Regions from separate parts of the Homo sapiens genome. Here region 2 is linked to region 1. A link means that fine-mapping ties the variant in region 1 to the expression of a gene that starts in the linked region. Tissue or cell type: skeletal muscle. Region 1 holds a variant in brackets; the other region holds the start of a gene. All regions are shown on one strand. Distances are between the middles of the regions.

Evidence for each region. PIP is the estimated chance that this variant, and not a neighbour inherited with it, causes the effect.
Region 2: it holds the start of IQSEC1, and the variant in region 1 is fine-mapped to the expression of IQSEC1 in skeletal muscle (GTEx, PIP 0.98).

What each region holds. Positions count from the first base shown.
Region 1 is chr3:12,895,555-12,901,062 of GRCh38, forward strand. It overlaps IQSEC1 (IQ motif and Sec7 domain ArfGEF 1), which reads right to left. Exons shown (of 14, transcript NM_001134382.3): 14 at 1,489-5,508. The coding sequence ends at 5,429. All of the region lies in intron 4 of LOC105376956 (a long non-coding RNA gene), which reads left to right. Among named protein-coding and RNA genes, the nearest start is that of LINC02022, 13 kb to the left of the region's middle. The variant C/CAA (reference allele first, on the strand shown) is at 3,313.
Region 2 is chr3:13,070,368-13,075,367 of GRCh38, forward strand. It overlaps IQSEC1 (IQ motif and Sec7 domain ArfGEF 1), which reads right to left and starts at 3,062. Exons shown (of 14, transcript NM_001134382.3): 1 at 2,625-3,062. The coding sequence starts at 2,647. RefSeq lists silencers at 2,978-3,137, 3,258-3,437.

The DNA of each region.
Region 1 (5,508 bases):
GGTTTCCGCTGCATGGGGCTATACGGTGAAGAACATGGTCATGGAGGGCTTGCAGGGCTGGGCTGTCAGAAACACCAAGGGGACATGGGTGCCCAGAGTAGAGGTCTGGGCTGGAGATGACATGTGGAAGCCAGGGGCATGGAGAAGGTGGACTGAAACCGTGGGCTTGTGTGAGGGTGCCTCAGGAGAGGGGAAAGGGAGGAAGAGGGCTTGGACTTGACCTAAGCCACACACGAGCTCCGTGGAGGAGGACTGGCCTGCACAGGAGACTGAAGGAGTCTCCAGAGAGCAGAAAGGGCACATGGCCCAGAGGTGCCCGGGAACCAGCATTTCAAGGAGGCAGGCACGAACAGTCACAGCTGCCGAGGGGTCAGGGAAGCTAAACATGTTCCTGGGATTCGGTGGCACAGAAGTCACATGCAGCCAGGGAGGAGGAAGAACCATGATCTCAAGGTCTGAGTCAGGTGTCTCCCAGCCAGACTTAAGTGTTAAGGGAAGTGGGGGGGATGAGCAAACCGGTTTCCATACGTTTTTTAATTATGTCAGTGATCGGTATTCTCAAACACCAGCTGCTGCTGGTGGTGTGACCTGAACCCCTGCCTCTTCCAGCCATCCATTAATTTTCAGATAGATGCATGCCGACAAGCCCAGTCCTGGGGCTGTCACTGGACACACACAGGCGGATCATGCAGCTCACAATCTCAGGGCAGGGGGAGACAAACACAATCCCCAGAAGATCACCGCCTCGGAGCCCTGGCCTAGCTCACCTACCTCCAGCAGCTCCTGGGCTGTAGATCTGCGTAGTAAAAATCAAACCCTGAGGCAGAACCGGGTATTTCAGGGAATTTTTGTACCCAGCTTCTCTTGAAGGGCCCCTGAATAGTCTGTAAAAGGGATGGACGCCCAGTTGCAGAAACAGGCATTGTGCAAGGCACTTGTGTGTGTGCACTGAAATGGCTGGTTTCCTGGTTTCAGTCTAGATGAGCCAGTAGTGGCTATGAATGAGACTGGAAGAGGGGGCCCCTGTGAGAACATCTTTCAATCAGAATGTGCTGTACGGAGGGAGGGCCAGAGTTCATTTTGGTCACCAAAATTAACTTTTTTTTGTTTGGTTTTCCACTAGTTAGATCTGCCAGTTCCTTTTATCCCATGCACTGAAAGTTTAAAGTGGTGTTCTCAGGAATTATGTTTGGCCAGGAAAGGAGAAATCGCAGAAGCCAATTACATCCTCACAGGCCCCTTCCTTCCAGGAGAATGACTTTACCATCTTGGCTTTTGTACATGATATGAGCCAACATGGAAACGCAGGCTGCTCTGAACTCCTGTCATCATCCATCTTTACTGGGGACTGGGCCACTGGGTATTTTTTTCCCTAAGTCATAATCAGTGTACCTCAACGCTTAATAGAATTCATCCCCTCTAACTCCATGAAAGGACCATCACTTGTTGAAAGTTGCTAGAAATTATAAATACCTTTGAAACCTTCTATTGGTTGTGATGTGTCCCTTTATTTTAAATTTTGTATCAGTGTCCTCAGTCAGTCCAATGTCTTCAAGGAAAGTGAGTGCCCAGAGTCACAACAAGTAATGGGGAAACTCATCAGCTGGAGATCTGGGTCTGGCCAACAGGGCAACTTCTGGACTTTTCAGAAAAAGTGAGAATCCGAGAGTTTCAAAGGATTTATTTGATTTCCCCACATGATCACAACCATGGTTTTACATTGATAGAGTCTGTTGCCACTGACAAACAGAATGCAGATGAAAACAAACGCACTCCTTTCCTCTCAAAGGTACACAGTGGGGGTGCCAGGCTTCTTGTGAGGGAGGTGTCCCTTGAAGTCTCTGAACAGTCTGGGGATTCAGGACCTGATTCTAATTGCTTAAAACAACTCGGAGGCAAAAGATATTTTCCAAGAGGAGATGCATGCTGTGTGCAGTCTCGATGTGACTGCACACAGAAGGGCGATGCAGATGCATCTGAATGGAGGGCAGGCCTCCTCCCTCTTGTCCTGTGCTCAGCACCCCCACCTCACCCTGCTCAGTGTTGCAATGCTGCCTTGACTATTGTTGTTACATAAAATACAAATGTACTCGTTTCTCAGGCAGGAAGGGTGATGATATTTTACAAGGAGAACTGTAAGACTGTGCGTGCTTACCTGCGGGCACAGAGCTTCCCGTGGCGCTGAGTCAACACCCAGCATCAGCTGTGAACATCTGCTGTCTTTTCAGCTCATTAAGAAAAACAAGAGGCTCCTGCTGCATGCAGTGTGTGAGGGAAAGATCACTGCACTGGGTGCTGAAGACATTTTTAAGCAAGATGTGCACAGCATATTAGGATGAACTTTATTTTTACATTGTTGTACAATTCATTGGTAAACTTAAAAAAATACAAATACATGATTTGATTGTTGTCCCAGAAAAGACTTTTGTCACATTGCCAGCTGTTTCCCTCAGCGTCTCCTGCTCCTGTCAGCAATTCTGTATGTAACTGCAGTAATTTGTGTGACTTGAGAAAGGTGTGCCAAGGGCGTCCTCACAGTGAGAAGGGACCAGGCAGACATCCTGGGGCCCTCGGCCTCCTCCTGCCTCCCCTCCCAGGGGATGTGATGACAGGACCCCGAAGCTGTGGCTCTGACAGGTGGGATCTCTAAAGGGGACAGTCCCATGAAAGACACACGGGGACACCAGCTCACTGGGAGCTTTTGCTTTCCCAAACAAGATGTGGGCAGCATGACTCCAGCCTCTGGAACCCAACAATGTATCTTCCACAAACTTTTGATAAGCTTGCAAATAAAACAGAATGAAACCTCACTAGCCTGAAGGAACACACTGAGTGCGGCGGGAAACCCCGGGAAGGGCTCAGTGGGTTCCAGCAGTTCCTTACGCGAGGCCCTGCTGCCCAGCACAGCTCCAGGACACACCGAGGACAGTGCCACAGGCTGGCAGCCCGAGGCTGTGGAGCTTGCAGGATGGCGATGGAGAGGGAGAGTTTCCTGAAAGCCCCTCCTGGGGTTTTCTGTCTGTTCCTATTCATTACTGCTACCCTTCAGAAAGAGCAATTCTGTGCCAAACGGCCTGAATCTTTTCTGGAACAACCTAAAGGTTACAGTTAGACTCTCCTCCCAGCACAGAAGAGGGTGAGAAAAGCTGACATACTCAATATGTAATCGCTTTACTTCAACGATGTGTTTACAGTCACGCCAATACATTTTGCAAACGCACAACACGCAGAGCGCAGCCTCACAGCTGACGCCAGATGACATGCAGCAGTTTAACGCTTCCAGGTCGGAACAGCCTCCTCAAAATTGCGAGA[C/CAA]AGAGTGCTTTGGGGAGCCTGGCTTTTAAAAAAGACCCGAGAATTGATGAGTCGGAGACACCAGGGCGCTTCCCTGACAGCCCAGCCTGGACCCAATCACACGGTCCCATGCTGTTTCTTTCTGAGCAGACACCAAAGAAATGCCACGCCAATGGGAGGACACAGGTGGGCGGGTTAAAGTCACATTTTTAAAAAGGCTAAACTCTAGATTGCTGTATTTGCTCTCTCTGGAGATTAACAAAGTGCTTGGTTTGCAGATTTGCTGGTACGGTGATCTCAATGATATGACCGAGGGTGGGAGGGATGTGAGGAGGGAAATCGGCAAAACCCTGGCCAGCCAGCCAGCCAAGGTGACACACAGCCAGAGGGGGCTCCCCTCTCCTCCTGCCGTCCGGCCACGGCTCACCACGCTGTCCACTGGGAACGCGGCCCCGCGGCCCGCAGAGTCAGGCGTGAGCTTCGCCCTTTCTGAAAGGGCCTCCGCCTGGGCAGGCGCCGGGGGGCAGTCCTCGGGTCCCATGGCTTAGGAGCACAGCACTGACGGCTGCAGTGGCTCGAAAGGCTGAAACTACAAAGTATGGCCCGTGGGTGACTCGGGCACAGACCTGCCGCGTGCAGGTCTGGCCCTGGGGAGCGCATGGTGTCACCACAACACAGAAGCGACAAGAGCACAGCTGAGAGTCATGTGATGCCCTGGCAGCTCACTGGACCATGGGAAGGCAGCGGGGGCTCCGCCGGGCACTCGTCGGCTGGGGTCACACGGGCCACGGTGAGGACACAGGGGTTCTGCTAGCACATGGCTACATGGAATTACGGTGATCACTGCTACCACTCAGAAAACAAAACGGGAAACACACACACCGCCCTGGGTTGCTAAACGCTAAAGTCAACCTTCAGGTTCGAGAGTGGTTCCTGATGAAAACACTCTCTGAGGGCTTCGGCCTGGTGTGGGTTGGAGGCGGGATGAGGACGTTATGGTGTTGGGGAGACGAGGATGAGAGCTGGTCACTTTCATGTTGGAGATGAACACTTCTGCCGTGTATGGGTGCCCCTCTCGGAGGACTCTGAATGAGTGTGCGTCAAATCATATGCGCATAAAAGAAACATGGATCATGGAGAGTCACAGTTATCGCAGCCATTAAAGTGTCTAAGAATCCGTGTAACCAATGTCCTAAGACAACCAGCTTGTAACCAGCTGTCCTGAGTTGCTACTGTAGAGTGTACTGCAGTTTAGCTATTTGCTTACCTGAAATAACAGCATTATAATACTATTTATGATAGTATTCTGTTAATAAAATAAGGATTTATACAAAGCAATACTGGACTTTTTAAACAGTTAGATGCTATGTTACTTGGCACAGTTAGTAATGATTGTGTAAAGATTTTAGCCAGTCCTAGAGGGACTTCTTTGTATGAAAATATGAAGTATCTGAATTTGTTCCTAGCATTTAGGGTTTGGTCTATTGTCTCACACACCCAGCTAAGGTACTGTCTTCCTATTAGGTAAGTGGAGCTCCTTGTAAGGTGGGTATTGCTAATGTGGACTGAAACGCCTGCCTTTCACACACAAGTACTACCTATACAGTATATATATATATATATTTATATATTTATATATTTATATAAAGTTTACTTACGTATTTTCATCAACCATATCAGGTCTACTTATTTTTTTGCCCATTGTCAATAAAAGAGCAATAATGCAGCAAGTTTTGGGGTTTGTTTTGTCTGTTTTTGTATCTCATTTCTTCGTTTTCTAGGTTGGGTTTTCATATGCATGTACATTAGGGCACAGGGAGCTGAGAGCTGGAGTGGGGGAGGCAGTTCAACACTACTTGGCTGGCTCACCGTTTCAAGGCTGATGGTGTCTGAGGCCCACCCATCCCTCAGACTGAGGTGAGCAGAGCCCAGGGTGCCAACAAGAAATGAAATCTGGGCCTTTGTTCCACACAACACCAGCCCTGTGGGCTCCTGGGGCTCCGGTTGGGCCGTGAGGGGCAGAGGGGAGAGATGGCAACAGAAGTGCCCCGGGTTTGGTGTGCGGCTGGCGACCCCCGGGCGTGCCCTGTGTGGTGTGCAGGTGTTTCAGGGAGCCTGGGACCCCTACCCAGGCTGTCTACACAATTGTGCTGATGCCGCTGGGTTTGGCCTTGCTGCTGGTGGGGGGCGGCGGGGCAGGGGGCTGCCCATGGTGGT
Region 2 (5,000 bases), 170 kb after region 1:
GAACGCTTTGCAATCAAGTTGGGCAGCTCTGATAGTGGCTACAGTGCAACTGTTGGGAAAGTTAAACATCTAGAGATGCTCAACACCCCATCTCCTTTCCACACTGAAAGGCAGGGTAACAATAAGGTCTGAGCAGCAGGTGCTGGGAGAGCCTGGGCCTAGAAGTGGGCCTGCCGCGGGTTCTGGGTGGGGAGTAATGGTGGGCAAACACAGGCTTATCAAGTGCAGCAGGGTAACCTCAGGAAAGGCCTGCTCTTGGTTACAAGATCCTTGCGTACAAACAGAGCCACCCCCTCCAAGTATCTTTGGTATTTCTGGTGCCAATAGGTTTGGTGGCAGAGCGGGGATGGCCTGGGAGTCACAATGCTCAGACTGGGAGCCTGAGAGCTGGAGAAGAGTGAAAAGACCCACAGAAAAGAAAGACAGTGAGCGCTAAGCCCCCTCGGGCCAGCCCCTCTCTTAGGCAGGAAGGCTAGACGAGCTTATTCCAGGAATCAGCAAATCCACCAGAGCCACGTGTTCAAATGCAGGTGGCTGGGCCCCCAACAGATTGAAGCAGACTCTCCAGGGAAGAGTATTGGAATCCATATAGAACATTGTCCCTGCAAAACTGCAATTGGATAGGCTTGGGCAACGCAGCCACAGTGAATAGCTGCATCACGGGAACATCAACCACACCTGGACATTAAAATCATCCGGAAAATGAAAAAGATCCTGAGGCTTGAGCCCTCCCCCAAACCTAGAAACCAGAATGTCTGGGGGTGGGACCCACACAGTTTTTTTTTGTTTTTTTTTTTTTGTTTGTTTCTTTAACTGCTCCTCAAGTGATTCCAGTATAGCTCCTGGGCTACAACCCCCACCCCAGGCTAGTATACTCCAGGGTTCCAGTAGAACTGTGCTGAGCCTCAGTTTCCCCATCTCTAAAATGGGGTTCTTAGTGCCTGCCCAGACAAGGCCTTTGTGAGGATGACATTTCTGAGCATTGGAGGCAAGCAGGCACTGGGCCAAGTAATCTGAATATGAATTGTCACATTTCATCCTCATGACATCTCCCCTCCCCGATGTAACAGCCCTGAGAGTTTAGAATTTCTCTGGCATCAGGCTCCTGGGCCCAGGCAAAGGTGTGGCAGGGAGGAGACAGCTGTCTCAGGAGGACCTATTCCCAGCCACTGGGGTGGAAGTTCCACGCTGGGAAAGGATTTACTATTTGTTTCAGAAAATGCAGCGAGGGCCTTGCCACAGGGAGTGAGAACTTTGGTGTGCTCTGCTCGCATCGACAAACCAACCTGTGAGCTTCTCCACTAAAAAAGCAAGTGAGCATCACAGCGAACCAGAGGCCACCGTCATCCCTCGAACCAGAGGCCACCGCCATCCCCCAAACCAGAGGCCGCCATCCCCCGAACCAGAGGCCACTGCCATTCCCTGAACCAGAGGCCACTGCCATCCCCCAAACCAGAGGCCACTGCCATCCCCCAAACCAGAGGCCACCGCCATCCCCCGAACCAGAGGCCACCGCCATCCCCCGTGGGTTGCCGCCTGGCACTGCTGACGCAGCAGAGGCAGAGGTGTGTTTACTTTCCCTCAGTGGAGGTGACGGGGAGCTGCCACTCTATCAGGGGTTCCACAGGCCCCTGCCATGGTAAGGGGCCTCCATCGATTAGGGAGGCCTTGGGGTAGCCCCCAGAAGGCTCCCCACATACTGCTCCAGGCCTCCTTTTCCTAGCCTTGCGACTGAGCCCAGCTCAAGAGGACTCAGCCATGCTCTCTAACCTCCTAAGGTCTGAGGTCACTGCACAGCCCCAAATGAGTGGGTCCTGGGCAAATAGTTTAGGCAGGTGGAGACCTGACGCTGGGCCTCAACCCCCGCAGCCGAGGGTCCCAGAGGAGGGCAAAGGTTGCTCCTCCTAGAACAGCACAGTGCAGCGCCCAGAGAGCTGTGAGGGAAGCTGGCATTCGAACCCCACTGCCCCCTGGGAAGCCTGGCTAACCGAAGCGCAGGCTTTGGTTTCCATAAATACCCGGGCCCGTGATGTCACCGCCCCGTGCAGACTTTCACAGCCTCTGCTGCTGGCGTGAGGCCCAGCACACAGCCGCTCTGCTGCCAGCCCACAGAACACCTGGGCACACAGCTGGACACTGATGCCTCCGTGCTAGGGACGGTGGGCTGGACCTTCACCTGCCCTTGGAGGACGCAGCATCCTGGCCACTGCCTCAGCCTGCCTGCGACCTTCTATCAGGCATGGCTGAAGGGCTGGCCATGGGCGTGCTGGGCAGAGATTCTCTTCCTAAACAGGCTATGGGCTAAACCAAAGCCAAAACAGTAGGAGCCGGTCTGGGCACCCTGAATGTGGATCTGGGAGGGGGGATACCTGCTCTCACAGTTGGGAATTTCACAGCCTGCTGAAGACCTGCTGACTAATAGCCTTTTTCTCATCGTCATCACCAACAAACACCTCCGCTGCAGGGGCCGAGCGCCGGCATCCCTGCTGGGTGGCCAGCTCCCTCTGCAAGTCACCTGCACATCCACCTGCCCCTCCCCCAACGATGCCCCTCACTCCAGCTCCCAGCTCAGCCGGGCCCCTCTGGCCTCTGGCTTCAGGCAGAAACCTGCCACATATACTCACAAATAGCGTCTTCTGCAAGCCATCCTGTGTGAATCCGTTCTTCCCTGTTCTGGCTCCCTCTCCAGCGGGGAGGCTCAACGTGTTTCCAAGAGGAGCAGGCGGCTCAGGCAAGAAGTGGAGGGGAATAAAATTAAATCGCGGGGCGAGTCACATTCCCGGGGGTGGCGGGCTCCTCCAGGGAGGCTGGGGCGGGAGCGGGGGGCGGCGCCAGCAGCGGGCTGTGGAGGGCCCTGGCACGTAGCGCGCGCTCACACCGTGCCCAGGAGCGAGCGAGGACGTCGAGTAACCGTGGTCGCCAGGCTGGGCGGGGGCGTCCACCTCGCTGCTACCTGGGCCCACCTTGGGGTTTTTCCCTCCCGTCCATCCGGGGTGCGGGGCGCGGGGATGAGGAGGGGAGGGTCGAGAGAAGGCTGCCCCGGGTTTGCTCTCGCAGCATCCGGAGAAGGGGCGGGCGCGCCGGAGCCTCCCCCACCCCCCGCGCCCAAGGAGCAACGTAGTGCGGCCGCGCCGGACCAATCGCCGAGGCGCTGGTCGCCATGGCAACAGCAGCATCAGGCGCGGCCGCTCGGCTGCGCCCTCGCGGCAAAGTCACACACCCGGCGGGGCGCGGGGCGCCGGCCCCTTCCTGGCCCGCGCTGGAAACCTGGAAGTCTGTTGCTAAAATGCACGCGCCGCGCGGAGCCTACGATGACACTACTTTCCAAGGCGGCTTTTCTGCCTTCGGCACTGAGACACGCGAGCCGCGGAGCTCTCGGGGCTCTGGCCCTGGAGTGAGGCCGGCCGACTCCAAGGCTGTCTCTGCCACTGAAGGGCGATGAGACCTTGGCAAGCCGCGTCTCTCCTGGGAGTCTTGATTATGCTACTGTGAAAGGGATCATAACAGCTATACCACGGGGTTCCAGGAGGGCGCACCACGCCAGTAGCTGCACGGTGGATGGCAGAGCAGTCCTCGTTTGTGCCAGTCCTGTCCCAAAGGGGGCTGCACGTGGCTAGGGAGAATTTCTGGTCTAGCTATGGTGCCTCTTCCTCTCCCGAGGACCTTCCATGTGCCGGGCAAGTATCTGCCCTCATGATGTTTACAGTCTAAGGGGAAGCCAGGAAGTAAGTGTGCAGATATAGGATTGCACGTGGTGATAAGGATCAGGATGAAAAGAGAGCAGGAAGAGGGGAGGCAGGGACCCCAAGAGAGGCGGGAAGGAGGCTTCTGCCATCAGACGGGGTGGTCGGGAAGGCCCTCTGTGAGGCACGTGTGGCTGAGACTCGGATGACGCAAGAAGCAGGGGAGGAGCTGGCGTCAAGGCTCTGAGGCGGAAGGCAGCCTGGTGTATTTGACTGGCCCAGAGGAGGCCAGCGTGGTGCAGTGTGCGACAGGGAGGTGGAGGGGAGAAGCGCACATCCATCCTCGGCTCCCACACCCGCCTTTCCCACACAGATTTCTCTCTTCCTGTCTGATGTTCATCTGATCCTCTCTGCTTCCTCATCTGTAAACCAGGAATCCCAGACCTATCTCAGAGGCATGTAGATAATATTCTTCCGTGCACGGTAATCCTCAAGACAACCCCAATGAGGCCTAATACTATCATCCTACTTCACGGGGGAGCGCATTAAAGCCAGAGGTTCAGCAACTGGCCCAAGCCACATAGCTGGCGGGCAGTCTGGCTCCAGAGTCTTGGTTCTTGACTGCTTGAAAGCTGCCTCACTGGGAGGAATAAATGAGAGAGGGAGTAGTTGAGACTGGGAATCGGCTGGATGTGGATGGCAGCCCACAGGGCCATTTCCCTTCCTCTTTCCATTCTCTCCAGATTCACACTCACCGAATTTAGAAGGAGTGATGCTGCATCCTTGAGTTCCATTCCATCCTTTACAGGGGAGGAAATGAACCTCAGGGGGTGAGCGATTTGCCTAAAGTTGCACAGCAAAGAGTGGCAGAGGTGGGACTAGGACCCCAGTCTTCCAGCTCAGTGTCCTGGTAGGGAGCAGAGGTTGGAGCTGCGGCCTCAGGTGGCCAAGGTGAGGCATCGAACAGAACTGCATGACGCTTCCCGATCTGCCCTCTCCAGGTGAATCCATATGCATGACCAATCTTCCTGTAGCACGGACCTCCCTCCCTGAGTCATGTGAGGAATTCATATTTCTGTGGGTTAACATGTTGCAGAGCCCACCCCACCCCTCTCCTCACTGGAGTTTCAAAAGATTTTAATAACATCAAAATTCAGCCACTGCATCAGGAGGGCTCACTTTGTGTCAGGTCCAGTTGTTTCATGGTCTCAGTGAATTCTCAGAAGCGCCCTACGAAGTGAACATAATTACCACTCCTGCTTAGATGGGTTGCACCACATACGGGGGTCTCCCATCAAGGCAGCAGCAGAGCCCAGA